4 linked regions of the Homo sapiens genome follow. The protein of the gene in region 2 interacts with the protein of the main gene of each other region in a biochemical or structural test. Each region holds a gene or a part of one and is shown on either strand. Other genes may lie near its edges. The genes, in order: CALCOCO1, ARNT, GTF2F2 and TRIP11.

Region 1 (7,903 bases), on a different chromosome or scaffold from region 2:
CCCAAGGATATCAAACTTTGCGCTAAAATTACATCAATGTTTTTCCTACTTCCCACAGAGTCCACAGTTTGGAAACATTCAGAACAGCCTACAATATCTGATAGAGCTGCTTCTGAGTGTTTGTAAAGCACCCAGCAGAGTGCCTGATACATGGCAGACACTCAGTACTATTAATAACACTGGCCATCATTATTTTCTCAGAAAGCATCTTGTTATATTGGGAAAGGTATAGGTTTCAGAATAAGATTGTTCTTAGAGGCTTTTTTTTTTTTAGACCGGTCACATTCTCGTCGCCCAGGCTGGAGTACAGTTGGTGCATTCATGGCTCACTGCAGCTTTGATTTCCCAGGCTCAGGTGATTCTCCCACCACAGCCTCCCGAGTAGCTGGGGCTACAGGTGTGCACCACCACACCTGGTTAATTTTTGTATTTTTAGTAGAAACAGGTTTTGCCATGTTGCCCAGGCTGGTCTCTAATTCCTGTGCTCAAGCAATCTGCCGGCGTTGGCCTCCCAAAATGCTGAGATTATAGACATGAGCCACCGCGCCCAGCCAGTAAGTTACTCTTAAAGTCTCAGTCTCTTCATCTGTAAAATCTGGATAGCACCTTGCACAGTTATTGTGATGATTCAATGGGTGAAAGAGCACCTCTCACATAGTAGGCACTCAACTAGTGGTAGCTCCTCAAAGCATTCCCAGAGTCCAGGGCCAGCTTCCATTAAACATTTATTATGTGGTGGGCACCGAACTACATGAGGCAATACCAGAATTAGGACTTTTGCAAAAGAGAAAAGAGACAACATTTCAGGGAAATGGATTCACTTTTCAGCAGCTCCTTCCCAAGTTCTACGGAGCCCTTCGACAATCATGGCAGTCATCTCCCTTCCCCAGACGAGTTAAACTATATTCTTAAAAAAAAAACAACAGTCCCCAAATCTCCCACTCTCACTCAGAAATATTCTTTGATCCCAATAACTGTAACTTCCACCTGTCTTCACAGTATTATTCCCCTTTTTCAAAAAATCTTCAGTGACTAACTTCCCATTCCTGATGGGAGTGAAGTCCAAACCTTTGTACATGATGTATTGATGAGGAAAACAGTAGCTACTATAAAAAATAAACCCATTTTAGCAGTGTAACAAAATTGAAATTGATTTATTGGTCAAGTGAAATCTGAAACACATGATCCTGATTAGTGGTCCGCTCTCTGCCACGTGATGATTCAGGGAACCAGCTTCCTTCCATCCTGTGGCTCCACTGTCTTTAACATGTGGCCTTCAGGGTCACTGTGCCTAAGGTCATCTTCATCAAGCTAGACAGGAAAAAAAATAGGAAGGAACTTTTTTGGAGGGTTTTATGGGCCAGACTTGAAAATGGAACACATTAATTAAAGGAGAAGCTTAAAAATGTGGTATAGCTAGGCCGGGCGCGGTGACTCTTGCCTGTAATCCCAGCACTTTGGGAGGCCGAAGCGGGCGGATCACGAGGTCAGGAGATCGAGACCATCCTGGCTAACACGGTGAAACCCCGTCTCTACCAAAAATACAAAAAAATTAGCCAGGTGTGGTGACGGGCACCTGTAGTCTCAGCTACTTGGGAGGCTGAGGCAGGAGAACGGCATGAACCTGGGAGGCGGAGCTTGCAGTGAGCTGAGATGGCGCCACTGCACTCCAGCCTGGGCGACAGAGCAAGACTCCGTCTCAAAAAAATAAAAAAATAAAAAATAAAAATAAAAAAATAAAAAAATGTGGTACAGCTGTGTGTCCAAGAAAAAGAAAGAAACAGGTTCTGATAAACACATAGGCTCTGGCTCACTTGACATTCAAAACTCTCTATACTCTGGCTTAAGTCTGTCTTTCCAATTTTATCTTCCATTATCCAATTATCCAACTGTAGCTTCTTTTTGTTGTTGTTGTTGTTGTTGTTGTTGTTTGTTTTGTTTTTTGAGACAGAGTGTCACTCTGTTGCCCAGGCTGGAGAACAGTGGTACCATTCTGGCTCACTGCAACCTCTGCCTCCTGGGTTCAAGCGATTCTCCTGCCTCAGCCTCCCAAGTAGCCGGGATTACAGGCACGCGCCACCATACCTGGCTAATTTTTGTATTTTTGGTAGAGATGGGGTTTCACCAGTTGGCCAGGCTGGTCTTGAACTCCTGACCTCAAGTGATCCGCCCACCTTGGCCTCCCAAAGTGCTGGGATTACAGGAGCAAGCTACCACGCCTGGCCTCCAACTGTAGCTTTTATTCAGCTTTGCTGCAATCACAACCTACCCCAAAATCTAAGCGACTCACAACAACCAGTGCTGGCTTCTGATTTATGTATATGCAGGTTGTGGGTAAGCAGTAGCTCAGCTCCACAGGTCTTCTCATTCCCAGGCCCAGGCAGAAGGAGCAACTCTCATGTGGATTATTCCCATTCTAGTGGCAGAGAAGAACAAGAAAGTGGAAACTCATGTGTTCAAACATGGCATGAGTCACATCTGTTCACATCCCATCAGCCAAATTATGAAACATGACAAAGCCCAAAGTCAATGACATGAGACATCTATTCCTTCTACAGGAGATACTGCAAGTCACATGGCAGTGGGCAGGAATGAGAGAGGAAATAATTTCAAACAATTAGTCCATCCACTACAACTGCCATTTTCCATCTGGAGTACATGGCAGACATTACTACCCAGCACTCTTTCCTCAGAATCCTCAACACAACATTTCAGGCAGACATTACCAATAATCTGAGTTTGCCTAAATACATAAATAAAGGTTGAAATTGATGTGCTATTATGTGACTCTAGGCTCATTATCCATTCCCACCTCCAAATCTTTGCTTTGGCCTAGAAGAAGCTTACCCTCCCCAGTCCCCATCTTGCCAAACTATCCAAATTTAATCTATCCTTCAAATACTTGAATATTTGAAAGTAATGACTATAATTAAAATAATGAATTACATTTATTATTTTAAAATAATGAATTACATATATTATTTTAAAATAATGAATATTTACTATTCATTCTTTCAATAAAAGTAACTGAATACCTAGCATAGTACCTGCCACATATTTGTTGAATGAATCTGTTTCACATTACTTTGTGCCTTGCACTGAGCACATAAATGCTCAGTGAACATTTGTCTCCTGTTAATGAACCAGCACTGTTCCTTAGAACAATGGGAGTTAGTATCACATGCCAGAGTTTCTGGACTGGGAGTATGGTGACTGCTTGTGCTTAAATCTTGATTCTGCCACTCACTAGCTGGATGACTCCAGGCAAGTCATTAATTGTGCCTCAATCTCATCATGTGTAAAATGGGGATAATAACAAGGCGTATTACATAAGCCTGTTGTATTAAATGGGAAAATTCTTAGCATAGTTTGAACAGATCATAAGCACCCAAGAAATGGAAGTTGTTACCATTTTTAGCTCCGAGACTGTTTTCTCGTAGACCTTTATTTTGGGCGGAAGACAAGAGCCAAGAACTCTTGAGACTTGGGTCCTTGAACAGACCTCACTCTTAACCCACTCCAGACCTTGAGCTACCTCCTCATCCAGAAACTGGTTCCCTAACTCATAAATCCTGACTAATGACACAGACACATCACCTTAATGTTTGTGCAGCCCAGTAACTAATTTTTAAGTGCCTGGAGATCTTCAGATGAAAGACACTGAGGGCAGACACCGCATTCAGTCATAAAAGCAAAACACTACCAAAAAACTTGGAAAAGGCAGAAGCTCCATAACTTAGTGCAGTAGAGAATTAAAGCAGGCACCTAGGAAGAGGAAATCAATCCTTAAGACTGTAATCCTTTAATGCAGAGCCAGAGAAAGAGGTAATTCTGAATGCCTCCGACTACAGGGATGGAGAATAGCGAGAGGGGGGACAGGATGCCCAAGTCTATAACGTGACTTGGGGTGTGGGAGACGTGTCAATCTTTCACCTCTCCTAAATAAAAACCGGAACGTCAACATGTATTGTTATCCTAATTAATTTAAGCCACTTAAAAGGCTTGGGCAAACAGGCCCCATAAGTGGCTTGTTTGTGAATTGTGACAGGTCCTGAATTATGCCAAGCTCCCTTTTCAATTTCATTCTTCTCATTCCACCGCTCCTACCACCACCTCAGTCAATTGTATCCTCTTCCTAGACCCAGAAGCCACTCTGGGGGAGCCCAGTCCAGATGTGGATATGGTCAGGCCCCTTAGCACTGAAATCCTCAAGTTGGAAAAAAATGGTCAGCTGTGCAGAAGACATCATTCTTACAAGGTCTGTCCCTGAGATTGAAGTAAAGAAGAAACTGCTATACCCCAGCTATCAGTTTCCCATCCCCAAAATGGTGGGTAGCTGTGGTGTAGTGGCAAGAATATATGACGTGGAATTAGCCAAGGCTAATGCAGTTCTACATTTCATAGCTTTGACACTTCACACCGCCTCCTTAACCGTACTTCACTTTCTACATCTATAAAGCGTGCATAACGCTTAACGCCTATCTCACAGGTGGGTGCGAAAAGTACAGGACGGGACGCAACAGAAACCGCTCTGCCCACCGTTAAAGCGTTATATGGAAGGCTTTAGAGCCGTAAATCCTCCCCAGCCCCCAACAACGCACGTTACAAACCAGCAGCCACCCCTAATGCAGCCGGCCCCCTCCTAAGGGATCATGGGCCTTGAAGTCCTTTGCTGGCCACACCCTCGTTTTCTGTCATAGGAGTGAGAACTACGCCTCCCAGGATGCCGCGGTGAGGCCGCCGTCACGGACGCCCTCTTCCCCGCCCTCCTTGCGCGCAGCCTTCTGGGATGTATAGTCCTAGATCCGAGCACGCAGCGGCAAAAGGGCGCAGAAGAACCACAAACCCCAGAAGCCCTCGCGCCCACTCTTCTCCCTCCCCTCCAGAAGTCGGAGTGCTGTTTTTGTTGTTGGTGAAAGGTGAGGGGAACAGCTGATCCGTCTGTTGGGTAAGAAACTTGGCCTAATTGGGGGCGATCTTATGGGAGGGGAGGGTCACCCCACTTTCCAGTTTGGGGAAGGATAACGTAAGGGAACTGTCGAAGGGGAATACAGGAGCGTTTGGGTTGTAACCCTTTCCGTACTGGAGAAGCCACCCCCGCTGTTTGGGGAGTTCTTGGTTTCAAGGGGACTCTGATTGGGGGTGGGGGGCGCCCCCTCGTCGTCCTCTCCTTCTTCTCAATGCGTCTCTATAAAGCTGATCCCTTCAAGGGAGCTGAAATCTGCTTATTCGCTCCCAGGCAAGACGTGTCCCCTACACGTCTTCCCTCTCTCCCCTACGCAAATCCAAAGGCCTTTACGACGCTGAATCCCTGGGGAGGAAGGGGGACCTTCCAAGGTGTAGAATGTCAAGGAACTCTAGAGCCCTACAGAGTAGGGGATGGGACACCCGCTCTCCGCCCCATCATGTGAACATCTGAATCAGGCTACACACCTACATCTTAGGTGCCCAAAACTTTCTTTCGGACATGAAGAACGTTTACAGCTGTTACGGATTTTCTTTGTGGGGTGTATTTTAGGGTTCTCCAGGTATATCTTTGGGGACAATTTACCCCCACCCTTAGAAAGCTGGAAGAATTGCATTTGGAGAAAACATGGATTAGTTTCAACCAGGAATTTTTCAGGGAGATGAACATTAAAAAAAACTTTTTGTTCTACCTATTTGGGGGACAGAAGTTGCTCCTTTTTGTGTTGCTGGCTCACCTTTATCCACTGAGTTTCTGTTTTCTTTTAAAGTTCCTGTCCCCTGGACTTCAGCCTGGTGTGGGTTTGTGATGTTTGGGGGCGTGCATATGACTAGTGACAATGGCTGGTTGGACATGTCAGCTGTGAGTGACACAGGAAATAGATTAGTGGGCTGGAAAGGAGTGATGAATAAGAGGGCCATCTCACAGCCCTGGACTGAGGAGTTCTTTTGATCGTTATTATTGTTATCTGTCCTCACCCCACCCTCATATTTTCCAATTAACTCTCCCCAGCTAACTTGGAACACCCCTTCCTCTCAACCCCATCCTGTAGTGTGTCTCCAGCTACCAATACAAACAGATGGAAGGATGGAGGCTGAGGGGAGCAGAGAGAAAATGAGGAGAGAAATACTAAAGTGAAACCAGTAGGTTTCTAGTCCTGCTGCAGGCACAGTCTGGAGAGAAGAATGTTAGGTTCTTTTTGAACTATCTCCCCTTTCCTCAACGTTAAATATACATTTCCACTTCTTGGGGCCCCTTACTTCCCACTTTCTAGTCTGTTCCCTGCCCTGGGGTGGGGCTTTCCTGGCTCCAGGCCCCCACATTCCATCTCCCCACCCCCACCACGTTCCTGCTAAGCGCCTCACTCCACCCTTGAAGTTGCCGCCTCCAGAATTCTTGACTTCCTGGAATAATAAGTCAAGGGACAGAACCTGTCTTTCCTTATATCCTCCCCTTCCCTTTGTCTCTTGGATGCCAGCAGAAGCTTTCTGCTTCCCTAGAATTCATGGGGGTAGGCAGCTCAGAGAGATGAAAAGAGCTGAGAGCTCAGGAGCCTAAGGATTTGGGCTCAGTTCCCCTCGACCCCCAGCCATATTCTAGCTCTGAAAACTCAACCATTCCTTTCAGAGATTAGTTGCTGCTTTCTGATGTCATAACTCATTCCTGGATACAGCTGGGTCAACAAGCTTAGGAGTAGGTAAGGACACCTCTCTCAATGAGAGGGCCCCACACCTCAGTTGGATTTTGTATTCAAGAGCCAGGATGTGTGGGAGATGGGATGGAGAAATGGAGGCTGTCGACCAAGTCGCAGTATCCCAGGCTCTGTCCCCGTCAGTGTCCTTTTGGGAGCAAAATTAGAGAAGTCTGAACCCTCAGAAGGGTCTATGAGCCAGAGCGGGTACAGTGTGAGACAGGATGGGGACGGACTTGGAAGGCCAGACCTACGTCCTAGAGACTAAGAGTGATACCTCAAAAATGTCCCGTAACCCTCAGGGACTAGAAACCAGGTATGCCTTATCTCCAGGTGTAGTGGCAGGGGCTGTGAGTGTGTGGTGCTGGAGCTGTGGGGGGAAGGAGGTGGACTGGAAAGACTTTAGGCTATCAACCCTTTCTTTCATAGGAGGACAGATATCTCAAGGCCAGGATGGAAGAATCACCACTAAGCCGGGCACCATCCCGTGGTGGAGTCAACTTTCTCAATGTAGCCCGGACCTACATCCCCAACACCAAGGTGGAATGTCACTACACCCTTCCCCCAGGCACCATGCCCAGTGCCAGTGACTGGATTGGCATCTTCAAGGTATCTCTGGAACCCCTTTTGGCTTAGGTTTATGGGCTGTGAGTTGGTTGGAATAAGGGGAATGATTGGGCTCTTGGATTCTCAACCTCAGGTTGATAGAGAAGAAGAGAGAAAGATGTCACAGATGACAGAGGCCGCCTGTATAACCAAAGCACATATTTTCTCCATCTTAGCCTTGTTCTTTACTGACACATTAGTGTCCCTCCACTTTCCCTTTCTCTTGTCATTGTTGCCACTGTAGCTCCATCCTGCCCCCCTTATTCAACCCCTCAGCCCTTTCTTCCATCCATAGAAGGTAGTTCCATGACCATACCTTTCTCCAACCTTGGGCTTTCACAGGTGGAGGCTGCCTGTGTTCGGGATTACCACACATTTGTGTGGTCTTCCGTGCCTGAAAGTACAACTGATGGTTCCCCCATTCACACCAGTGTCCAGTTCCAAGGTACAAGGGAAGATGGAAAATTGGGAGAGAGGAGCCAAGGGAGTGGAGGTTTGAAAGAAGGTAGTGGGCTCAGAAACATTAAAAGTTAGGCACAAAGGACAAGGAAAAATAAACGAAAATAAATATAATGAGAATATATCCAACAGCGCTCAGCGGATAGAGAATCACGGGATTATCGCAGAATCAGGGACATAGA
Region 2 (7,031 bases):
CCCTTATAATTTTTTTGTAACAAACATTTTATAAAACTATCTAAGTCTTTAAATATTAATATATGGATGTATAGTTTTGATTTAAATAACTTTTATATATGTATGTATACACACATACATATACACACACACACACGTATATTTGGCAAAAGACCTGAGAAGAGTTAATAACCCAGATAAACACATAAAAAATAAAATCCAAACACTTATAGTTCCTTAGCCTGGGGAAATGAAAAACTGAATTGTGATAGTGATGAAAGATACAGAAAGGTAGGAAGAACAGCAGATTTAAAGGAAATACTGGTGAGTACATACATATATAGGATGTTAAAGATTATTCAAATAGAGGCTGGGCGCAATGGCTCACACTTGTAATCCCAGCACTGTGGGAGGCCAAGGCAGGTGGATCACTTGAGGACGGGAGTTCAAGACCAGCCTGGCCAACATGGTGAAACCCCATCTCTACTAAAGATACAAAAAATTAGCCAGGCGTGGTGGCACACTGTAGTCCCAGCTACTCGAGAGGCTGAGGCACAAAAATCATTTGAACCTAGGAGGCGGAGGCTGCGGTGAGCCAAGATCGCACCACTGCACTCCAGCCTGGGCAACACAGAAAGACTCTGTCTTTAAAAAAAACAACAACAACAAAAAAAAACAGATTACTCAAATAGAGCTGGGCATCGTGTCATACACCTATAATCCCAGCTACTAGGGAGACCAAGATGGGGGGACTACTTGAGCTCAGCAGTTCAAGACCAGTCTGGGCAATACAGTGAGACCTCATTTCTATAAATTAAAAAAAAAAAAAACTATTCAAACAGAGATGCAGCCAGGCACAATGGCACACACCTGTAGTCCAGCTACTCAGGTTGCTGAAGTGGGAGGAATGCTTGAGCCCAGGATTTCAAGACCAGCCTGGGCAACATAGTAAAACCCTGTCTCAACTTTAAAAGAAAAAGAGAGAGATATCTTTTAAATAGATAAAAATATAGGAAAGTAGTTTATGTGAGAAGCCAGGAATGAAATTTTTGGAGTCTTTTATACATAAAAGATAAATAAAGGGTGATATGGTTTGGCTCTGTGTGTCTCCACCCAAATATCATGTCAAATTGTAATCCCCAGTGTTGAAGGTGCAGTCTGGTGGGAGGTTATTGGATCATAGGGGTGGTTTCCAAAGGTTTAGCACCATTCCCCTAATGCTCTCTCATGATAGAGTTCTCAAGAGATCTGGTTGTTTGAAAGTGTGTAGCACCTTCCCCTTCTCTCCCTCTATCCTGCCAGCCATGTGAAGACATGCTTGCTTCCCCTTCGCCTTCCGCCATGATTCCAAGTTTCCTGAGGCCTCCCCAGCCCTGCCTCCCATACAGCCTGCGGAACTATGAGTCAATTAAACCTCTTTTCTTCATAAATTACCCAGTCTCAGGTAGTTATTTATAGCAGTGTGAGAATGGACTAATACAAAGGGAAGAGGACTATGGTAGGTACCAAGTGAATGTCAAATTGAAGTAGGAAGGCAAGCAGCTAGAAAGGCAGGTAGGTGGGCAAATGGGAAGAAATGAAGGAAACTGCTTGGTTTACTATTTAGTTCTAGCCCCAAGCCGGGCACTGTGGTGTACACTTGTAATCCCAGCTACTCAGGAAGCAGAGGTGGGAGGATCATTTGAGCTCAGGAATCCAAGACCAACGTGGGCAACATAGCAAGACCCTGTCTCAAAAAAGAGTCAAGACCCTGTCTCAAAGAAGAGTCCTAGCCTCAAGGGTGAGAAGAGAAAAGTAGAAGCATACTGAACAAGAGAAAGAAACAAGCAGAAAGATAAGCAAAAAGGACAAAGAAGGAACAATCAGTGATAAAGACCTAGCAACAGTGTCTCTGAAACCAAGTTTCTAGGAGAGGCTCAATTATGGAGTATCAAGAACTTGTAGAGGATTCTAATAACAATCCTAAAAGCTGCAGTGCATGATTCATGCCTGTAATCTCAGCAATCTGGGAGGCCAACAGCAGGAGGATCACTCGAGGACAGTAGTTCAAGACCAGCCTGGGCAGGCCGGGCGCGGTGGCTCACGCCTGTAATCCCAGCACTTTGGGAGGCCGAGGTGGGCAGATCACGAGGTCAGGAGATCGAGACCATCCTGGCCAACATGGTGAAACCCCGTCTCTACTAAAAACACAAAAATTAGCCAGGCGCGGTGGCACGTGCCTGTAGTCCCAGCTACAGGAGGCTGAGGCAGGAGAATCGCTTAAACCCGGGAGGCAGAGGTTGCAGTGAGCCGAGATCACGCCACTGCACTCCAGCCTGGGTGACAAAGCAAGACTCCGTCTCAAAAAATAATAATAAAATTTAAAAAAAAAAGGACCAGCCTGGGCAACATAGCGAGATCCTGTCTCTACAAAATTAAAAAATTAGCTGGGCATGATGGTGCATACCTATGGTCCCAACTATTCAGGAAACTGAGGAGTGAGAATCGCTTGAGCCTAGGAATTGGAGGTGTTGCAGGAAGCTATGGTCACGCTACTGCACTCCAGCCTGGCTGACACAACAGGACCTTGTCTCAAAAAAACCCTTAAAAGTATTTAAAGAATTGAAACATAGAACTAGGAGAAAGAAATATAGAATGTTAGGCTGGGCGCGCTAGCTCAAGCCTATAATCCCAGCACTTTGGGAGGCTGAGGTGGGCGGATCACAAGGTCAGGAGATCGAGGCCATCCTGGCTAACACAGTGAAACCCCATCTCCACTAAAAACACAAAAAATTAGCAGGGCATGGTGGTGGATGCCTGTAGTCCCAGCTACTCGCGAGGATGAGGCAGGAGAATGGCGTGAACCTGGGAGGCGGAGCTTGCAGTGAGCTGAGATCGTGCCACTGCACCCCAGCCTGGGTGACAGAAGGACACTCAGTCTCAAAAAAACAAAACAAAACAAAATGAAGAATTATAGAATGTTACAGAAAAGATTTTAGGAAACTACTCCTTTTTTTTTTTTTTTCCTAGAGACAGGGGCTCACTCTGTCAACCAGATTAGAGTCCAGTGGCATGATCATGGCTCACTGCAGCCCTGACCTAGCAAGCTCAGAGATCCTCCCACCACCTCAGCCTCCCAAGTAGTTGGGACTATAGGCATCCACCACCACATCTAGCTAATTTTTTTATATATATTTTTGTGGAGACAAGGTCTCCCTATATTGCTCAGGCTGGTCTCCAACTCCTGGGCTTAAACAATCCTCTCACCCTGGCCTCTCAAAGTGCTGAGATTACAGGTATGAGCCACCACACTCAGCCTGGAAACTACTGTTCTAGCTCCTTTTTTTAGCACCTTGCACTTGGTTCTCCAACCAAGCAATGCCTTGCCCCCAGGCTGCCTAATGTGGTATTTCACCCTTTTCATCTACAAAAAAGACAATACTCCACCTACCTCCTTCTCAAAAGATATCCATTGTACTATATTTCAGTAGGAAGGTGACTCTAAGTCACAATGGAAAAAATCATAACTTGGAGATTAAGAATGATGACTGTGTAGATGGACTGCCAACAATAAAATTCTGTCTCTAACTTCTAGTAGCTATGTGACTTCAGACAAGTTACTTATTCACTCTCTGTGCCTTAGTTTCCTCATCTGTAAAACAAGAATAATAATACTTACCTAATACGATTGTTATAAAAATTAAATGAGAACAGCTGGTAAGTATTACTAATAAATATTAGATATTATTATAGTTAGTACAAATTCATGATGTCAATGGCTTAATTAGTTTTATCCCTTCAAAGGTATTTCATATTAACAGTGGGTTTTACATTCATTTTTATTCCACAAACATACATTGAACTCTAATCCAACATACTAGGCACCCACTGTAAGCACTGCAATGCTCTGGTAAACAAGGAAAGCAAAAGTTCTGCTCTCATGGAACTTATATCCTAAGTATGCTGGTTTTGTTGTGTTTTTTGAGACAGGGTCTCACTCTGTCTCCTAGTCACCCAGACAGGAATGCAGTGGCACAATCATGGCTCACTGCAGCCTCAACCTCCCAGGCTCAGGTCATCCTCGCATCTCAGTCTCCCACGTAGCTGGGACTACAGGGAATGCTACCACACCCTGCTAATTTTTTGTATTTTTTTGTACAGATGGGGTTTCACCACGTTGCCCAGGCTGGTCTCAAACTTTTGGGCTCAAGCAATCCACCTACATCAGCCTCCCAAAGTGCTAGGATTACAGGTATGAGCCACCATGTCCAGCCCTAAGTATACTGTTGAATCCATAAACTTACTTGTCCATTCAACTACAATGAAAACGTGGAGGGAAAATATAAAATGGGCCTCAGAGGGTGGCTCACACCTGTAACCCCGGCACTCTGGGAGGCCGAGGCAGGAGGATTGCTTGAGCCCAGGAGTTTGAGACCAGCCGGGGCAATATAGTGAGACCCGGTCACTATCTAAAATAATAAAAACTTTAAAACAAGAAAATACATTGACGAAATTATGAAAAGTGACATAAATTTGAAGAGTTTATGTGAAAAGTTGGAGACAGTTGCTACAGACTAGACATAAAGATTAGCAACAAAATAGGAAAGTGCAGCCTGGCATATAGAAGGAACTTAATTATCCACTCCTTTCCCTGGGTTTGTCTCCTTAAGTGTAAAATGATAGGTGTTGTCATATTTCCAACCTGAAGATTCACTGATGTCTACTTACTAAAGTCATTATGGCATATTAGGCAGTCGTGGTTTTTTTTTTTTTTTTTTTTTTTTTAGACGGAGTCTCACTCTGTCGCCCAGGCTAGAGTGCAGTGGTACGATCTCAGCTCACTGCAACCACCACCTTCCAGGTTCAAGCGATTCTCCCGCCTCAGCCTCCCGAGTAGCTGGGATTACAGGCACCTGCCACCATGCCTGGCTAATTTTTGTATTTTTAGTAGAGACAGGGTTTCTCCATGTTGGCCAGGCTGGTCTTGAACTCCTGACCTCAGGTGATCTGCCCACTTCGGCCTCCCAAAATGCTAGGATTACAGGCATGAGCCACCATGCCCGGCCAAGGCAGCATTCTTAAAAACAGATGGCGGCGGAGCATGGCGGCTCACGCCTGTAATCCCAGCACTTTGGGAGGCCAAGGTGGGCGGATCACCTGAGGTGAGGAGTTCAAGACCAGCCTGGCCAACATGGAGAAACCCTGTCTCTATTAAAAATAAAAAATTAGCCGGCGTGATGGCAGGTGCCTGTAATCCCAGCTACTCGGGAGGCTGAGGCGGGAGAATAGCTTGAACCCAGGAGGCGGAGGTTGCAGTGAGCCAAGATCACGCCATTGCACTCCAGCCTGGGCGACACAGTAAGACCCTGTCTCAAAAAAAAAAAAAAAAAAAAAAAAAGGCCTTTGCAATATAATAAAATACTATCTCTTTTTTTGTTGGGGGACAGGGTCTCACTCCAACACCCAGGCTGGAGTACAGTGGCATGATCACAGCTCACTGCAGCTTCAACTTTCCAGGCTCAGGTGATACTCCCATCTCAGCCTCCCAAGTAGCTGGGACTATAGAAGTGCACCACAGTGCCCGGAAAATTTTTTGTATTTTTTGTAGTAAAGGGGTTTCGTCACGTTGTCCGGGCTGGTCTCAAATTCCTGGGCTCAAGCAATCGGCCTGCCTCGGCCTCCCAAAGGGATTAGAGGCACGAGCCACCACACCTGGCCATAAAAGAATATCTTGACATCTTAACTTTACATTGCATGAATTCCTATTTTCCCATATCTGAAAAAGGTAAATAAAGGTAACAGGTAAGAATTGTGTTAATTGACGCAGTTAAAACTAAGTTATATAGGTGAAAATTAGCTAAAAAAAATTTTCTTCCTAAATGACAGCCTTACAAACCCAAACGGTATTACCCTTTTCCTTCTACATTCTTCATCCACAGTAACTTGTACATAATAGCACAAAAAGAATTCTCTGCTAATGAGAATACCAGAATCAAGAGAGATAAAAACCTACACTTACTACAAACTCATTCAACATCTCTAGTTTGAATTTGGAATTGTAAATCAAATACCTAATCTCCTCCCAACTGTTCCCTCAGCCAATGCATTACAAATGACACATTCAATTTAAAAAGTGTTCCACCTTGGCTGGGCATGGTGGTCATGCCTATAATCCCAGCTCTTGGGGAGTGCCCAACGCAGGAAGATCACTTGAGGCCAGGAGTTAAAGACCAGCCTGGGCAACATAGCAAGACCCTGTCTCTAAAAAAAATTTAAAATTAGCCAGCCACGGTGGTGCACACCTGTGGTCCCACCTACTCAGGAGGCTGAAGTGGGAGGATCACATGCTCCCAGAAGGTCAAGGCTGCAGTGAGCCATGATTGTGTCACTGCACTCCAGCCTCAGTGACAGAGCAAGACCCTCTCCTATGGGGAAAAAAAATGTGTTCCTCAAAACTTGTCTAGTCCGGGCCGGGCACGGTGACTCAAGCCTGTAATCCCAGCACTTTGGGAGGCCGAGGCAGGCGGATCACAAGGTCAGGAGATCGAGACCACCCTGGCTAACAGGGTGAAACCCTGTCTCTACTAAAAATACAAAAAAAAAAATTAGCCGGGCGTGGTGGCGGGTACCTGTAGTCCCAGCTACTCGGGAGGCTGAGGCAGGAGAATGGCGTGAACCTGGGAGGCGGAGCTTGCAGTGAGCCAAGATAGCACCACTGCACTCCAGCCTGGGCGACAGAGTGAGACTCTGTCTCAAAACAAACAAACAAACAAAAAAAAAACAAAACAAAACTTGTCTAGTCCATAGATAAGAAACAGCCTAAAGTTTCATGGACCACCTACCCACCGAGTTCTACTTGCCAGTGATAAGTAGAACTAGTGAAAAATGATAGAATATGAAGAATTATCAATTCGAGAAAAAAAATCATCACAGAACTATTACTTCAACACAACTCTTAGAGAGTACCAACCATATTTTACTCTTCTTCTAATGCAGCACCACAGTGAAAAATGCAGAAGAACGTGGTCCCCTTGAAAAACACTGCAGGGCCACCAGCACAATTAACATGTTCA
Region 3 (6,910 bases), on a different chromosome or scaffold from region 2:
CCACCTCAGCCTCTCAAGTAGCTGGGACTACAAGCGTACACCACCACGCCCAGCTAACTTTTTATAGTTTTTGTAGATAAAGGGTTTTGCTATATTGCCCAGGCTGGTCTCAAATTCCTGGGCTCAAGCAATTCGCCCACCTCGTCCTCCCAAAGTGCTGGGATTACAGACATCAGCCACTGCACCCGGCCTGCCATAAGCTCTTCTTGAAAGCTTCTTTGGAGGTTCTAGCAGGGGAGTACAACCATACATATACCCTTGACTGAAGACCAGTCCTCCTCTATCCGGATGGTCATCCTCTTTGGTCAAGCGTGCAGCTTCGGGAGGGACATACATGGAGCAGTGTGGGAGGAAGGAGACACCCGCCTAGCCAGCCAGATTAGCCAAATCAACCCTAGTAATCAATGGGGTGACAGATGTCCCAGACAGATCACACTCACATCCATTTTTTTTTTTTGAGACAGGATGTCACTCTGTCGCCCAGGCAGGAGTGCATGCAGTGGCACAATCTTGACTCACTGCAACCTCCAAATAGGCTTTTCTTAAACGTCACCTTCTTTATGATGTCTTCCCAGTTCTGGTGAAGCACTAATTTTTTTCCCGCTCAAAACTCTCAGAGATCTTGTATGTATAGTTCTTACTGTATTTACACAGTTCTATACCTGTCTAGTGATGGAATTAAATATGTACAAGATGATCTATAAACCGTGAGATATCCTAGGAAGAAACATTATTTAGCAACAAAGATCAGAACTCAAGGTATTATTTTTAATAGGAAAATTAATGTAAGGAGAAAAAACTTGAAATCAATATGTACTTCAATTCAAATTCTGATTAGATGAGAATGAAGATACACTTTCTAAGCAACAAATTACACTTTTTTTTAATTTATTTATTTTTTTGAGAAGGAATTTTTGCTCTGTTGCCCAGGCTGGAGTGCAACGGAGCAATCTCGGCTCACTGCAACCTCCGTCTCCCGGTTTCAAGTGATTCTTCTGCCTCAGCCTCCCAAGTAGCTGGGACTACAGGCGCACACCACCATGACTGGCTGATTTTTGTATTTTTAGTAGAGATGGGGTTTCACCATATTGGCCAGGCTGGTCTCGAACTCTTGACCTCATGATCCACCCACCTCGGCCTCCCAAAGTGCTGAGATTACAGGCGTGAGCCACCATGCCCAGCCCGATCCTGTGATAATTTTCTAATTGTGACTCTGGTTACCCTCCCCTCTAATTCGTACTGCACACTGCCAAACATTTTTTTTTTTCCTGAATAAATATCTGGCATCTCTACCTCACTCAAATCCTCCAAAAAGTTCGTTACTTCCTTGTAAACTAAAGTTAGAATATCTCCGTTTCATGATATGACAATCTGAGTATATGGTCCCCATCTTCATCTACACAGATCTTCTGCTCTAGGTTCTCTCTGTTTTCCACAACACGCCATGCTGATTATATATTTTGAGTCTTGCATTTCTGTTCCATTCCCCATGGTATACACTGTGTCCACCCATCCAAATCCTGTAAGACAAACATTGAGCATTTACCATGCTCCTAGGACAATGGCACCATCTCAAGTCACACCATTTTTTCAAGCTTTTTCCTTCAGTCCGTAAGGGCAATCTCCTCCTTAGTGACTCTCCCCCCAAGTAACATGCTGCTGGAGAGAGAAATGCCTATTTAATCCATCCTTTTAAGTCACACTGAGTTTGGAAATAAGTCAAATGAGTGCCACAGACTAAGGCGAGGGCTGAAGAATGAGAGGTCATGCATTTATTCATCATCTATTTGTTGAGTAATTACCATGCGCCAAACACTATTCTGGGTATGACAGGCAAAGATCCTGTTCTCATGGAATGTGATTCTGTGTGTTGGAAAGACAGAGGTAACCAACTTTGAACATATGAACACAAAATCACTCTACACTGTGAAAAGTGCTTTGAAGAATGTAATACACATCTGTCGTGTTAGCAAATGATCACAAGGGGGCTGTTTTAGGAAGGCCGACAAGAAAGACCTCTTAGATTTAATTGACGAGAACTCAGCCATGTGATAAAACAGTTAAAGCATTAAGAAACCAAAAGTCCTTACATTTTAAGTTTCAACGACTTTCAGGATCACATTTTGAATATGCTTAAGTATTATGAAACTCCCCTAGGAGAAAACACTCCCCAATATGAAACAATAAAGCACAAATAGTGCTTACTGTGAGCTAACCAAAATTGCTGTCTTCACATAAAACGTTTATTGACGGCCAGTTTCACGAGACCCAAATGTGCTCTAAAAGAATACTCCAGTCCAATGACCTCTCCTTCTGTGAGTTTGGGGCTCTCTCGCCTCTTTTGAGAGCTTCATTAAGGACCATCAACCTAAGAGAACACTTTTAAGAGTAGGCAGGGACCAGTCCTACTTTCTGGCCGAGAAAACTGTACAGAAAGTAGACATTCAACTACCTCACGCAGGCTCATGGCTAAAACCAGTTTCACCAAGGGAAGATACAAGGAATTCTTCAGTCTGGGATAAAATGCACCGTCCAAATCTGGGGACACCAAGACAAGATTCCAGGAAAGCCGTGAGAAAGAGATCTAGTCCAGGCAGATTCAGAGTAGTAACTGGCTGAAAGACACTTTGCGTCCCTAAACTAATTCCTCGTCTGCAAACAGATACAACAATGACTCCTGCCTCTCAAAATGTGTGAAGCTCTAACGAGATAGCCGTAAAAGAACTTTAAGAGGCGCACGGAGCGGGATAGGCTCAAGTTACTTAAACTATACTTGTGTTAGGAGGAGCGCAAGTGGGAGACTCGCGAACATTACCTTGACTAGCCACACTCCTGTGTTCTGTTTGGCGCCGGTCAAGTCGAGTTCCCCGCGCTCGGCCATGGGTCTGCAGCCGGTGGAGGCGTGCGGGATGCAGCAGCGACCCCAGGAGCCGCAGGGCTGAGGAGCGGGCGTCCGGAACAAAGGACAAGCCGCGCTGAGAGGCGAAGAGCCGGCGTTCCTTACCTGCCAGAACACTGGGAACCGAGGAAAAGAGGAACACGCCGCCAGGAGCCGGGACTGCGCCTGCGCACTGCTACGTCAGTACGGCGCGCTGTTGCAGACAAACTTTCTGTTTCGGAAATTTCTTGAGTGGGCGTGGCTGTCCGCGATGTCTGCATCTGAGGGATTAAAACGTAGGGTGGGATGAGCTAAAACGTTAGCAATGTATTTAAAGACATGGTCAGCATAACTGAAGAAAAAGATTATCAGAACGGAAAAATGGGGTTCAAAGAGACGAAAGGTGTCAGAACATGTCCAACCCTAGCCAAGGAGAGAGAGACAATATTTGAAGGACAGGGTCAGGGTAGTAAATTGGCGTCCCTGGCCAACGTCATTAGCACAAATGGGCACTGGGATCAAACTTAGTAGCCTTGGGTATATTGAAAACATGCCGTTTCTAGACCTGGAAAAAAAAAAGCCGTGTTTCAGCTCAGAGGCTACCCGAGCTGTTCTGATGAAGCAAGCGGAGCACCTCAGTTTCCAAAACCCGGAAGTCTGTAACGAAACGAACAAGTAAGAGACAAACCTGATCGTTTCCTCCCCTGCTTAAACAGTTTTCTCTTTCTCTTATTGCCTCTAGAATAAAGTTCAATCCTCCTGCTTCAACTGGGCCCTCTCAATTTCATCTCTTTGCACCTCCCACCATCACTCCGCCATGCACCAAACCACATCAAACCCAGCAGACTTCCCTAAACACGTCAGAATCTTCGTCGGTCATTTCAGAGCCTCTGCACACTGGATTCCCTTCCCTTGGAAGCCCTATTTTACCCCTGCCCTCACTCTCACCCCTGTGCTCTGGTTGGCAAACTCCTACTTATGGTTCAAGACCAATGAAAATGTCACTTCCTATGAGATCTTTTATCAACTTCCCCAGAAGAAATTAGTTTTTCTTCACATCACAGTGTGATACTTAGCACTCTGAACTATAATATATATGTTTACATATCTGCCTTTGCTTTCCAGACAATGAACTCCTCCTAGGCGGAAAGAGCTTTATTGAGGTATAATTGACAAATAAAAAATAGTGCTTTATTCATTTTATATCCACAATGTCTAGCACAGTGTTTAACACATTGTCAGGTTTCAGTAGGCTTTGGGTGAAAGAACATTCGCTGAAGAGAAACAAACAGTAAGGTATTGTTAAGAATGGCAAGTAATTTATTGAATCACACATCAGAGCCTTGCACAAAATTGAGGAAATTTTATGTGTGTTCAGCATAGGGCCAGGAAAAGCTGTCAGAACTCTGCTTTTAGCTAGGAAAACTAATAGGAAAGATGGGAGAGACCAGGAGTGTGTTGAAGATGAAAGTTTCAGGCTAGGCTCAGTGGCTCAACCCTGTAACCCTAACTTTGGGAGACTGAGGTGGGAGGATTGTGTCTGCCCAGGAGTTCAAGGCTACAGTAAGTCATGATCGTGCCATGCACTCCAGCCTGGGTGACAGAGCAAGGTCCTGTCTCTAAAAAATAAATACTAAAAACAAAATTTTTTTGGCCAGGCGCAGTGGCTCACACCTGTAATCCCAACACTTTGGGAGACCGAGATGGGAAGATCACTTGAGGCTAGGAGTTCGAGACCAGCCTGGTCAACATAGGAAGAACCCTATCTCTAAAAAAAAAAGAAAAACAAAAAAAAATTTTTTTAAGCAGAAAATGAAGGTTTCTTCTTGTGCAACAACTTGGAAAAGGGCCTTTTTAAAACATATAAAGAGTAAGCAGATTAAGGGAACTGCTCTAAACTTTAATCAAGGAGAAGGAATAAATTGAAATATGAGACCATGGGAGAAGAGAAGCAAAGTCTAGAGCACCCCAGGAATGGACTTTAAAGATTGGAACCCTGGCTTTGGTCTCTGGGTCATGGGAGGCCTTAAAATGTGTACGTGGTGTGGGTATGTGTGTATGTGTGTGTACACAGAGATTGAGAGAGAAAAAAAATGGCTGATGAAAGGGCTAGCGAAGAACGGAAAAGTGGAGATTTTAAAATGATACATAGAAGAAAGAAAAAAACAACGTATTGAGCACCTCTTCCTCGTACGCTGTTGAACAAAGAGCAAGCTTCTCCTGTCTGTCCTTTTCAAACCCCTTCTAGCTTGAAGAGGGATGTTTACAGAACCCTGATAGAAAAGGAGGGCATGGCCCCTATGAACCAAATTCACAGATTTACTGTGGAGACCCTTAAGGTGGATAGATACTACAGGCAGATCCCTCACCTTCCTAAGGACTCATTATATGCCAGATCCTCAGCTAGTTATTTTCTGTATTATCCCATTTAATCCTTATAACAATTTGCCAGAGTAGGTATTATTTTTCCTCAATATAGCCCTATATGTCATTAAACATATCAACATCCAAGAGCTGAGACCATATCCCAGGATGGGGCTCACAGAGCATAGGATGCAGAAGTCAGTGCCCCAGAGAAGGTAACACCAAAATTTTTTACTCCCTCAGATGATTAACTAGTCAAGTTGTTACCAAAATTTTTAAGGCGCAAATGCAATTCTAGGAAGGAGGGCCCAAGAACTCATTGCTGGCTGCAATTTTTCCAAAAAGTCTGGTAGTGCTTAGGCCAACTTGAACCTCCATCTTTATCTAGGGCTTAGATTCTAGGTCAGACCTCAAGGCCACCCAACCTTCTTTGCTGCTTTGTTTTTGTTTTTGTTTTTGTTTTTAGGCGGAGTCTTGCTCTATCACCCAGGCTGGAATGTGCAATGACATGATCACAGCTCACTACAGCTTGACCTTTCGGGCTCAAGCTATCCTCCCACCTCAGCCTTCCAAGTAGCTGGAACTACAGGTGCACACTACCACACCCAGCTAATTTTTGTATTTTTTGTAGAGACGGGGTTTCACCATGTTGCCCAGGCTGCTCTTGAACTCCTGGGCTCAAGCAATCCACCCACCTCAGCCTCCCAAAATGCTGGGATTACAGGCATGAGCTACCATGCCCAGCCCCAACCTGCTTAATAGGCAGAACTACGTTCTTTTTTGTGTGTCTTCCAGACTAGCTGCAGCAAGAAAAACCCCTAACACCACACCCACCACAAAACATGCTTCAGTCTAGATGAGTGTTCTCAGCCTCTGGTTCCTGTACAAGTTGCATTAGAATTACCTGGGGGAAATGTGTTTTAAAATGAAGACACCTGAGCCCCAATCCAGGCAAACAAAATTAGACTTTCTGGATGTGAGTCTAGAAATTGACACTTTTAGCAAGCTCCCAGAGTGTTTCTTAGGCACACCAAAATCTGAGAATCATTGTTCTAAATGATAGAGTTCTAATCGATAGAATTCTAATCGATATTTTTCTAATCAATATAGTTCATTAGAACTGGGCCAGTTTCCAAAGTCTGAGACACGTGAAAAAATTTACCAGAAAGCCTTACAGCTAGAATTCCCTCATGCCTTGTTAATTCAGAACACCACAATTCTATCAGGTAGCTATTAGAGAATAAGCAGCAAAGCCATTAGGCGAGATGTTACAAGTGAGTTGAGGGAATTAGAATGACTTTAACAGATAGCTGAGTTCACTTTCAGATTTTGTCCTTGTCTATCATACACAGGCCTGATCTCTTCAGGCCAGAGATTTTCTTTGTTCACACTTACTCAGAAACATTCTAGCAAGAAAAAGTATTACCTCCAGGAGAGTTCATATAGGCAAAAAATGCTACCACCAGGTCTTTCTTAATAGACCAGACTCATTACCTATTGGTTACTAACATAAACATTGTCATTCAAAAATTACAAATGAATACAGCATTGTGGTAATTCATTCAATTTCCCTGACATCAGTGATGTAGTAGGTAGATAATTTTGCTTCGTTATGACACCAAGGCTATAAAACGTCTCTGAATTCTCCCTGCCTTTCCCTTCAACCCT
Region 4 (7,443 bases), on a different chromosome or scaffold from region 2:
AAATTAGGTGTTAAGCAAGTCCGATTGAAATACAAAGGGGAAAGAATAAAGGCATTAAGCAACTTTGCAGATTTCTAATCACGCACTTGTGCCATTTTTATTGAGCATCTACTATGTGCCAAAAGGAAGGTGTCACATATTTGGTAATATAAGGAGCAAAAAAATTCAGTCCTCACGCTGGGCATCAGGAAAACAGATAAATTATAACTCAACATGTTAAATGCTGTCAGGGAGAGATCCACAAAGTTCTGTTAGAACACAGATCACCAACATTCAACTCAACAACTCAACCTGTGTGGGAGTCAGAATGGTTCACCAAGTACTTAAGTACCTGACATATGAGCAGGGTTGTACAGGAGAATTGTTTTCTGGGTGAAGGAGGAAATAGAGAAGAAAGGGCTTTCCATGTAGAGGCTTGAAGTTGTGTAAGTGCCTGACAAAATCCCACACGACAGAAGCTGTGCGTACAAGCAAGCATATATATGTGCACATGTACAGCAACTGGTATGGCAACTAGAAAAGGTACATTGAAGGTCGGGTGCGGTGGCTCACGCCTGTAATCCCAGCACTCTGGGAGGCCAAGGCAGGAGGATCACCTGCGGTCTCAGGAGTTCGAGATCAGCCTGGCCAACATGGCGAAACCCCATCTCTACTAAAAATACAAAAATTAGCCAGGTGTGGTGGCACACGCCTGTAATCCCAGCTACTTGGGAGGCTGAGGCAGGAGAATTGCTTGAACCCGGGAGGCGAAGGTTGCAGCGAGCCGAGATCGCGCCACTGCATCCAGCCTACGCAACAGAGTGAGACTCAGTCCAAAACTAAGAGGTTTGGATTTTATTCTGTAACAGGGTCAAGAAATTTTTACGCAGGTTTGTTTTTAGAAAGTAACTGACAATACAATAGAAAATGGACTGGGGTAGGGAGAAATGGGTGACAGGACATGAAAGAGGAATAGTCCCTGGGAAAGATTATAGGGATCTAAAGAATAAGGAGTAATAAAGCAAAGGACAATTCTGGCATAGGATAAACAAGATATCATGACCAACTGGAAGTAGGAGATGAAAAAAGACATAAAACAAGGACACGAAGATTTACAGTTTAGGAAACTGAGAGTGAAGCTATTAAGAATGAGAAAACAGCACATTTGGCAGGAGAACAAAATGAACACCACCTTAAACCTGGAAGACATCCAGGTTGAGGGATGCATATTCTCTGGCTTAGGGTCTAAGGAACAGCCAACCGTTTTCCCCTATCTAGGATACAAGGAGCGACCAGTCATTTCCCATAGTTATCCAGCCCTTCTGTGCTTCTGACTGCCCTCAAGGTCCCATGCTTTCCCCCACACATAAAGAAGCCCTTTCATTTCTATCCCCAAAGCTGTCTCACTGATGCACCTTTATGGCATGGGGAACGTAAAGCGGTAAAATGGATTTCGGTAGCTCCCCAGTCTATTCTTCCTTCCATCTAAATAGACCCCACAGAAATTCAAAACATAAGCATTATCTTTCTATCAAACAATCTTTCCCGATTTCTACCAAATAAATATGAAGGATCTGTTAAATTAGCAATTAAAAAAAAAAACTAAGCCAGAATACTAATTTATTAAATTTATTTATAAGAAATACAATTGTCAAAGCAGCAGCTCTCACCCAAAAGAACAGCCCATTATCTCCCTGGAGCAGACTTAGATTGAAACTTAAAAACTGTTTTGATCCAAACATTGCTTACTAAAATGCCAAGAAATCAAAATAGTAATTAATGGATAGTAACTAATGTAGCCATTGATTACCATGTAACTCTGGGTCACTATTCATTAGTAAAACGAGATTGAGGACTTCAAAAATGAGTGAAGATTGCTAAGGGTACCTTAAGAATAGGGTTGTCTTCCCTATTCTACTGTCGAAATATGGGCGAAATGGGCGATTATACACAAAAATACATTCTCAGCTGGAACGCTATAATGTATCATCACAATAAGGAAAAGTAAAAAATAATTAAATAGAAAAACATGGCCGTGTTTCATAACATACTCAAGACAGAAAAGAGCAAAACTCACCAAGTGTTTAAATTATGAGTTATTTCAACTGTTACAAAAATAGAAAACAGATATACAATTCTTTAAACTGGGTCAGAATACAGGAAGATGTTAAGAATGAGATCAGCCCCCAAACTGAGGGCAAAGTGGTGGGCGTGGATCAACCAAACGAAAATAAACTCGACTTAACGTAGGAGCAGTTTCACTCTACTGTACTTTGAGATATCCAGAATATTTAAAGAGAGGAGAACCAGGACTCTTCCCCTGGCCCCCAGTGGTCTTTCATCATAGAAAATCTGTTGAGAAGAGGCAAGAGGAGGTGTGTGAAGAAAAAAGGGAGGAGCAGCATTCCTTTGCGACCTGTCCGCGTCTCCTGACTGATGGAAGTAGGGACCAAACGGACGTTCCCAGGGTCTTAGAAAAGCCCTCCCTTCCCTCGCTCCAGCTGTTACCTTCCACTTCCTCCGTGCCCTCCATCAGCATATCCTTTGTAAAGTTTGATATCTGGCCAGTGAGGGAAGCCAGGCTGCCCCCGACTTGACCCAGAGACTGGCCCAATCCGGAGCCGAGGCCCCCAAGCCAGGACGACATCGCGGCGAGTTTAGAGAACGACCCGGTCCGCTCGGAAAAAAGAAAACGTTTAGCGCCGCCGGGCGATCCGACCAAATATCCTTGAACGCCTGCCTTCGCGAGACAGGATACGATAACACAAAGCTGGGTTCTCAGGCAAGGCCGACTCCAGGTTCTGCCTAGAAACGCAGAGGCCTGGCCTGGAATTTTACCAGGGGCCCGCCTCTAGTGACACAGTCACCTACGGAGGGCCTTCTGCTCATTCCCACGAATTCCCACCGTCCAGATTGGGCCACTTCTTTCTCAGCTCTAATGACTTTCCTCAGTTCCGTGGGTTACTCCTGCCAACTCGACGCCGGCCGCCATGACACTCGCTCGGAAAGCGGCAGCGGATCATAGAAAAGCGCCGCGGTGGCGTAGACAGGCCCCGCGAAGCCGCCGGACGTGTCCTTGGCGCAAGGGAGGCTGGGATCGCGGAGGACCGAGCGCGGGCTGGATTAACCGCAGCCAGTGCCTAGCGCAAGGTTAGGTGCATGCAGGCGGCCAGCTTCGGCCGGGGAAGGAATGGCCTGGATAACTGGGGCATCGCGGCGCTCCTCGGCCTCCTGCAGCTGCGTTTCAAAGCAGAGCCGACCCTTGGTGGGTAGTCCGGGGACCCTGCGGACCCTCCTTGTGTTGTTGAAACCTAGTGTTTTAATTGGGACTACACCCAGCAGTGCCGGGAGACTTGGCGGGGACGTTCCACTGCGCAGGAAGTGGCTTCAAATAACTTACACGCGTCACTGTGTCGATTAGCTGCTCCGTGACAGGCACTATGGTAGGAGCTGAGGCTACAAAGATAGAACGGATGGGTTGCAAAAAAAAAAAAGGAAAAAGGAAAAAAGAAAGGATGGGTTGCAAATTCAGGTGTCCAAGCAGGAAACACACCTTCCTTCTATAGGAGAAATCTCCTCTGGTGGCTTTATAGCTCACAATTGAAACCCTACCTTCTTTAACATACGATGAGCTTTTTTCATGAAGCTGCCCTCACCCAAGTAGTTGAAAAACGGACAACCGTTTTTCAAAATGACTCGTTAGAAGACAGCAGGGCAACTTAATAGAGAAGTGCCGTTTAGTGTCAACGCTCCTATGGTATTGGCGGCACTAGCTATGCAAGTGCCCACACCTCCCTCAGTCCTTAGTTACCCACACTGGCTGTAACACACAGAGTCCTACCTTGCTTGCTTCCTTCCCTAAAGGAAGAAAGGTTGTCATGTGACTTTCAAGCAATTGGTGCAGGATACGTGGACACACAGCATCTAGCCAGGGAGACTTCCACATTTTTTGGTTTCAAAAGGATATGATAGATCTGCAGTTCTTTTAAGCATAGCAATAAGTATACTGGCATCTTTCACTTTGATTATATTCACAAGAGGGGCTATCACAGATTGCACAGTTTGTGAACAGAACATTGGGAATGCCTCCAGTATTTGGGATCTGATGGCACCAGGCAGTAGTAATTCTCCGTGAAAGCTGAATTTTTTTTTTTTAAATTTTATTTTTTGAGATGGAGCCTCGCTCTGTGGCCCAGGCTGGAGTGCAATGGCGGGACCTAGGCTCACTGCAACCTCGTCTCCCGGGTTAAAGCGATTCTCCTGCCTCAGGCTCCCAAGTAGCTGGGACTACAGGCGCCCATTCTTCATTTTACTAATGAGAAACCAGTGCCCAGAAATGTTAAGTAACCCATCCAAGGTCATACAGCTAGTAAGTGACAGACCCAGGCAGTCAGGCGTTGGAGTCTGCACATCTAACCGCTGGGCTGTGATGTTCACATGAATGCAGGGACAGCATTTAATAAACACTTCCAGAATGAGATGTGAATTTTATTTTAAGCACATTCAGATATCCAGTGTGACTCCGGGATGTAAAAAAAAAAAAAAAAAAAAAAAACAGGGCCGGGTGCAGGGGCTTACGCCTGTAATCTCAGCACTTTGGAAGGCCGAGGCAGGTGGATCACCTGAGGTCAGGCGTTCAAGACCAGCCTGGCCAACATGGTGAAACCCCATCTCTACTAAAAATACAAAAATTAGTGGGATGTGGTGGCAGGCACTTGTCACGGGCATCCGTGTGAAGAGACCTCCAAACAGGCTTTGTGTGAGCAATAAAGCTGTTTATTTCACCTGGGTGCAGGTGGGCTGAGTCCCAAAAGAGAGTCAGCAAAGGGTGTTAGGGGTGGGGCAGTTTTATAGGATTTGGGTGGGTAGTGGAAAACTACAGTCAAAGGGGGTTGTTCTCTGGCAGGCAGGGGCGGGGGGGTCACAAGGTGCTTGGTGGGGGAGCTTCTGAGCCAGGAGAAGGAATTTCACAGGGTAATGTCATCAGTTAAGGCAGGAATCAGCCATTTTCACTTCTTTTGTGATTCTTCAGTTCCTTCAGGCCATCTGGATGTATACATGCAGGCCTTGGCTCAGAGGCCAGACATTCCTGTCTTCTTATATTAATAAGAAAAATAAAACAAAATAGTGTTGAAGTGTTGGAGTGGTGAAAATTTTGGGGGGTAGTATGGAGAGATAATGGGCGATGTTCCTCAGGGCTGCTTCGAGCGGTATTAGGGGTGGTGTGGGAACCTAGAGTGGGAGAGATTAAGCTGAAGGAAGATTTTGTGGTAAGGAGTGATACTGTGGGGTTGTTAGAAGGAGCATTTGTCATATAGAATGATTGGTGATGGCCTGGATATGGTTTTGGATGAACTGAGAAACCAAACGGAAGACACAAGGTCCAAATAAGAGAAGGAGAAAAACAGGTATTAAAGGACTAAGAATTGGGAGGACCCAGGACATCCGATTAGAGAGTGCCCAAGGGGGTTCAGCATAATTACTTGCTTGGTTGGCAAGTTTTTGGACTCTGTCCTTGAGTTTTTTTATATTGTCATACACCAGGCCAGATTGATTTAGGTAAAAAGAACACTCTTCATTTAAAAATATACAGAGCCCGGCCGGGCGCAGTGGCCCACGCCTATAACCCCAGCACTTTGGGAGGCCGAGGCAGGCGGATCATGAGGTCAGGAGATCGAGACCATCCTGGCTAACATGGTGAAACCCTGTCTGTACTAAAAAAATACAAAAAATTAGCCGGGCGTGGTGGCAGGCGCCTATAGTCCCAGCTACTTGGGAGGCTGAGGCAGGAGAATGGCATGAACCCAGGAGGTGGAGCTTGCAGTGAGCAGTGAGCCGAGATGCGCCACTGCCTGGGTGACAGAGCAAGACTCCGTCTCAAAAAAAAAAAAAAAAAAAAAAAAAAAAAATATATATATATATATATATATATATATATACACACACACATACACACAGCGCCTTCCTTTTTCAGCAGTGAGTAAGTCAAGGCCTTGGCAGTTTTGGAGGACAACTGCAGCCAGAGAGTCAACTTGGGCCTGAAGTACTGATAAAGTTTAAGATATGTCTGTGATGCTAGTGGAGAAGTCATTAGAGAGGCTATGGAAGGTTGTGACAGAGGTTGAAATGCCTTCTATTCCAGTACCGAGAGCAATAGAGGAGGCAGAAAGTCCTAAACCGACAAGCAAGGGAATTAGTGGAATAACCCTTTTTTGTCATGTCGGTGTCATGAGAGGAACAGGAAGCTCTTTGGTCCCATTTGCAAATTGAATTTTGGGATTAAGGAAAATGAGTGTGCATGTGCCTGTCCAGTTAGCAGGTAGACACATGTAGGTAGAGGATCCACAGAGGAAGAAGAGAGCTTGTGCCAGGCAAAACTGGAAATGCAAAGTAAAAAGATGAGAAGGAGTGCTGAAAGGGGTGTCTTGTACCCAGACTCCTAGGGATCCAGCTAGGGCGGCAGCCGTCAGAGGTTGTAATGGGGACTGATGGGGTAACTGTGTAGAGGGAGAGGTTCAATTTTCATGGTGTATGAGAAAACGTCGAGTGTCTATGAGCAACCTTTCACTGTTATTTACGGGGCTGGGTATAACAAGAAGGCCTGGGAGGAGGGTCTGACGAGCAAGGGGAAGGTAGCCAAGGATGGAGTGAAATACAGGGTGTCTTCCTAAGCAATAATTACTTCTAATGTTTTTAAGTTTGCCTGTATTGATAAAAGGCTTATCTGTAATACGGAGCTGGAAGGCTCCAGTTGTTTCAGTGATGTGTGTAGTTGGGCTTTGGAGATGAAGAGTGAATGAACATCAAGAAGGTGAAAGGTTACCCAGGGGAATTCCAGTGGGTCTTTGCTGAGAGATACATAAAGGAGCAGCCACAGGAAAAGTAGTTTGTGTTGTGAGGGATCCAAATGTGGGGGGAGTAGAGTTGATATAAGGAGAAAGGTTTTTTAAGTAAGTGTGGAGGAGGGCGGCAGCTTGCTGATGTGAAATGTCTGGGGAGGCCTTGCTGGACCTGTCTAGAAAGTGAAGAAGTTCTTCAGGAGGGTAAAGATGAGGGCTGTTAAAGGAAATTTGGAGGTGTAGGGAGACAGGAGATGTTGCCCAGTCTGTATATAAGGCGGGGGCAGCTGTGTAGGTGCAGGAAGAAAGGGAAATGCAAAGCCAGCAATTATTCGCTAAGGAGGGATTAGAAACGGCTAGGAGAGAGTAAGATTGATAGTGTGGTGGAGATAGCTGGGGAGAGGTAGAGGGTGGCATAAGAATGGGAATGAGAATAAGAGTGAGTATAAAAGTAAAGAATAGAACTTCATCAGAGTGAAAATATTGGAGGTTGCCCTGCCAGCAAATATCATCTATCCACTCTAAGAGGGAGTTAAGAGTGGCGGTTTGGGGATAGCACCAGGAGATACCAGCTGTGATGGCTTAGAGAAACAGTGTAAACAGGCAATGTAAACAAGATTAGGGC

Evidence for each region.
Region 1: the proteins of ARNT (region 2) and CALCOCO1 form a complex in vitro, tested with the Homo sapiens proteins (2 studies listed by BioGRID, with this or other methods).
Region 3: the proteins of ARNT (region 2) and GTF2F2 form a complex in vitro, tested with the Homo sapiens proteins (one study listed by BioGRID).
Region 4: the proteins of ARNT (region 2) and TRIP11 form a complex in vitro, tested with the Homo sapiens proteins (3 studies listed by BioGRID, with this or other methods).

Annotation. Positions count from the first base shown.
Region 1 is NC_000012.12:53,724,449-53,732,351, reverse strand, and holds the start of CALCOCO1 (calcium-binding and coiled-coil domain-containing protein 1), read left to right. Parts: upstream 1-4,899; 5' UTR 4,900-4,948; exon of another isoform or gene 4,949-6,152; intron 6,153-6,592; exon of another isoform or gene 6,593-6,662; intron 6,663-7,085; 5' UTR 7,086-7,109; coding exon 7,110-7,265; intron 7,266-7,604; coding exon 7,605-7,707; intron 7,708-7,903. UniProt on the Homo sapiens protein: Functions as a coactivator for aryl hydrocarbon and nuclear receptors (NR). Recruited to promoters through its contact with the N-terminal basic helix-loop-helix-Per-Arnt-Sim (PAS) domain of transcription factors or coactivators, such as NCOA2.
Region 2 is NC_000001.11:150,866,577-150,873,607, forward strand, and holds part of ARNT (aryl hydrocarbon receptor nuclear translocator), read right to left. Parts: intron 1-7,031. UniProt on the Homo sapiens protein: Required for activity of the AHR. Upon ligand binding, AHR translocates into the nucleus, where it heterodimerizes with ARNT and induces transcription by binding to xenobiotic response elements (XRE).
Region 3 is NC_000013.11:45,116,627-45,123,536, reverse strand, and holds the start of GTF2F2 (general transcription factor IIF subunit 2), read right to left. Parts: upstream 3,028-6,910; 5' UTR 2,882-3,027; coding exon 2,816-2,881; intron 1-2,815. UniProt on the Homo sapiens protein: TFIIF is a general transcription initiation factor that binds to RNA polymerase II and helps to recruit it to the initiation complex in collaboration with TFIIB.
Region 4 is NC_000014.9:92,037,060-92,044,502, forward strand, and holds the start of TRIP11 (thyroid receptor-interacting protein 11), read right to left. Parts: upstream 3,001-7,443; 5' UTR 2,627-3,000; coding exon 2,488-2,626; intron 1-2,487.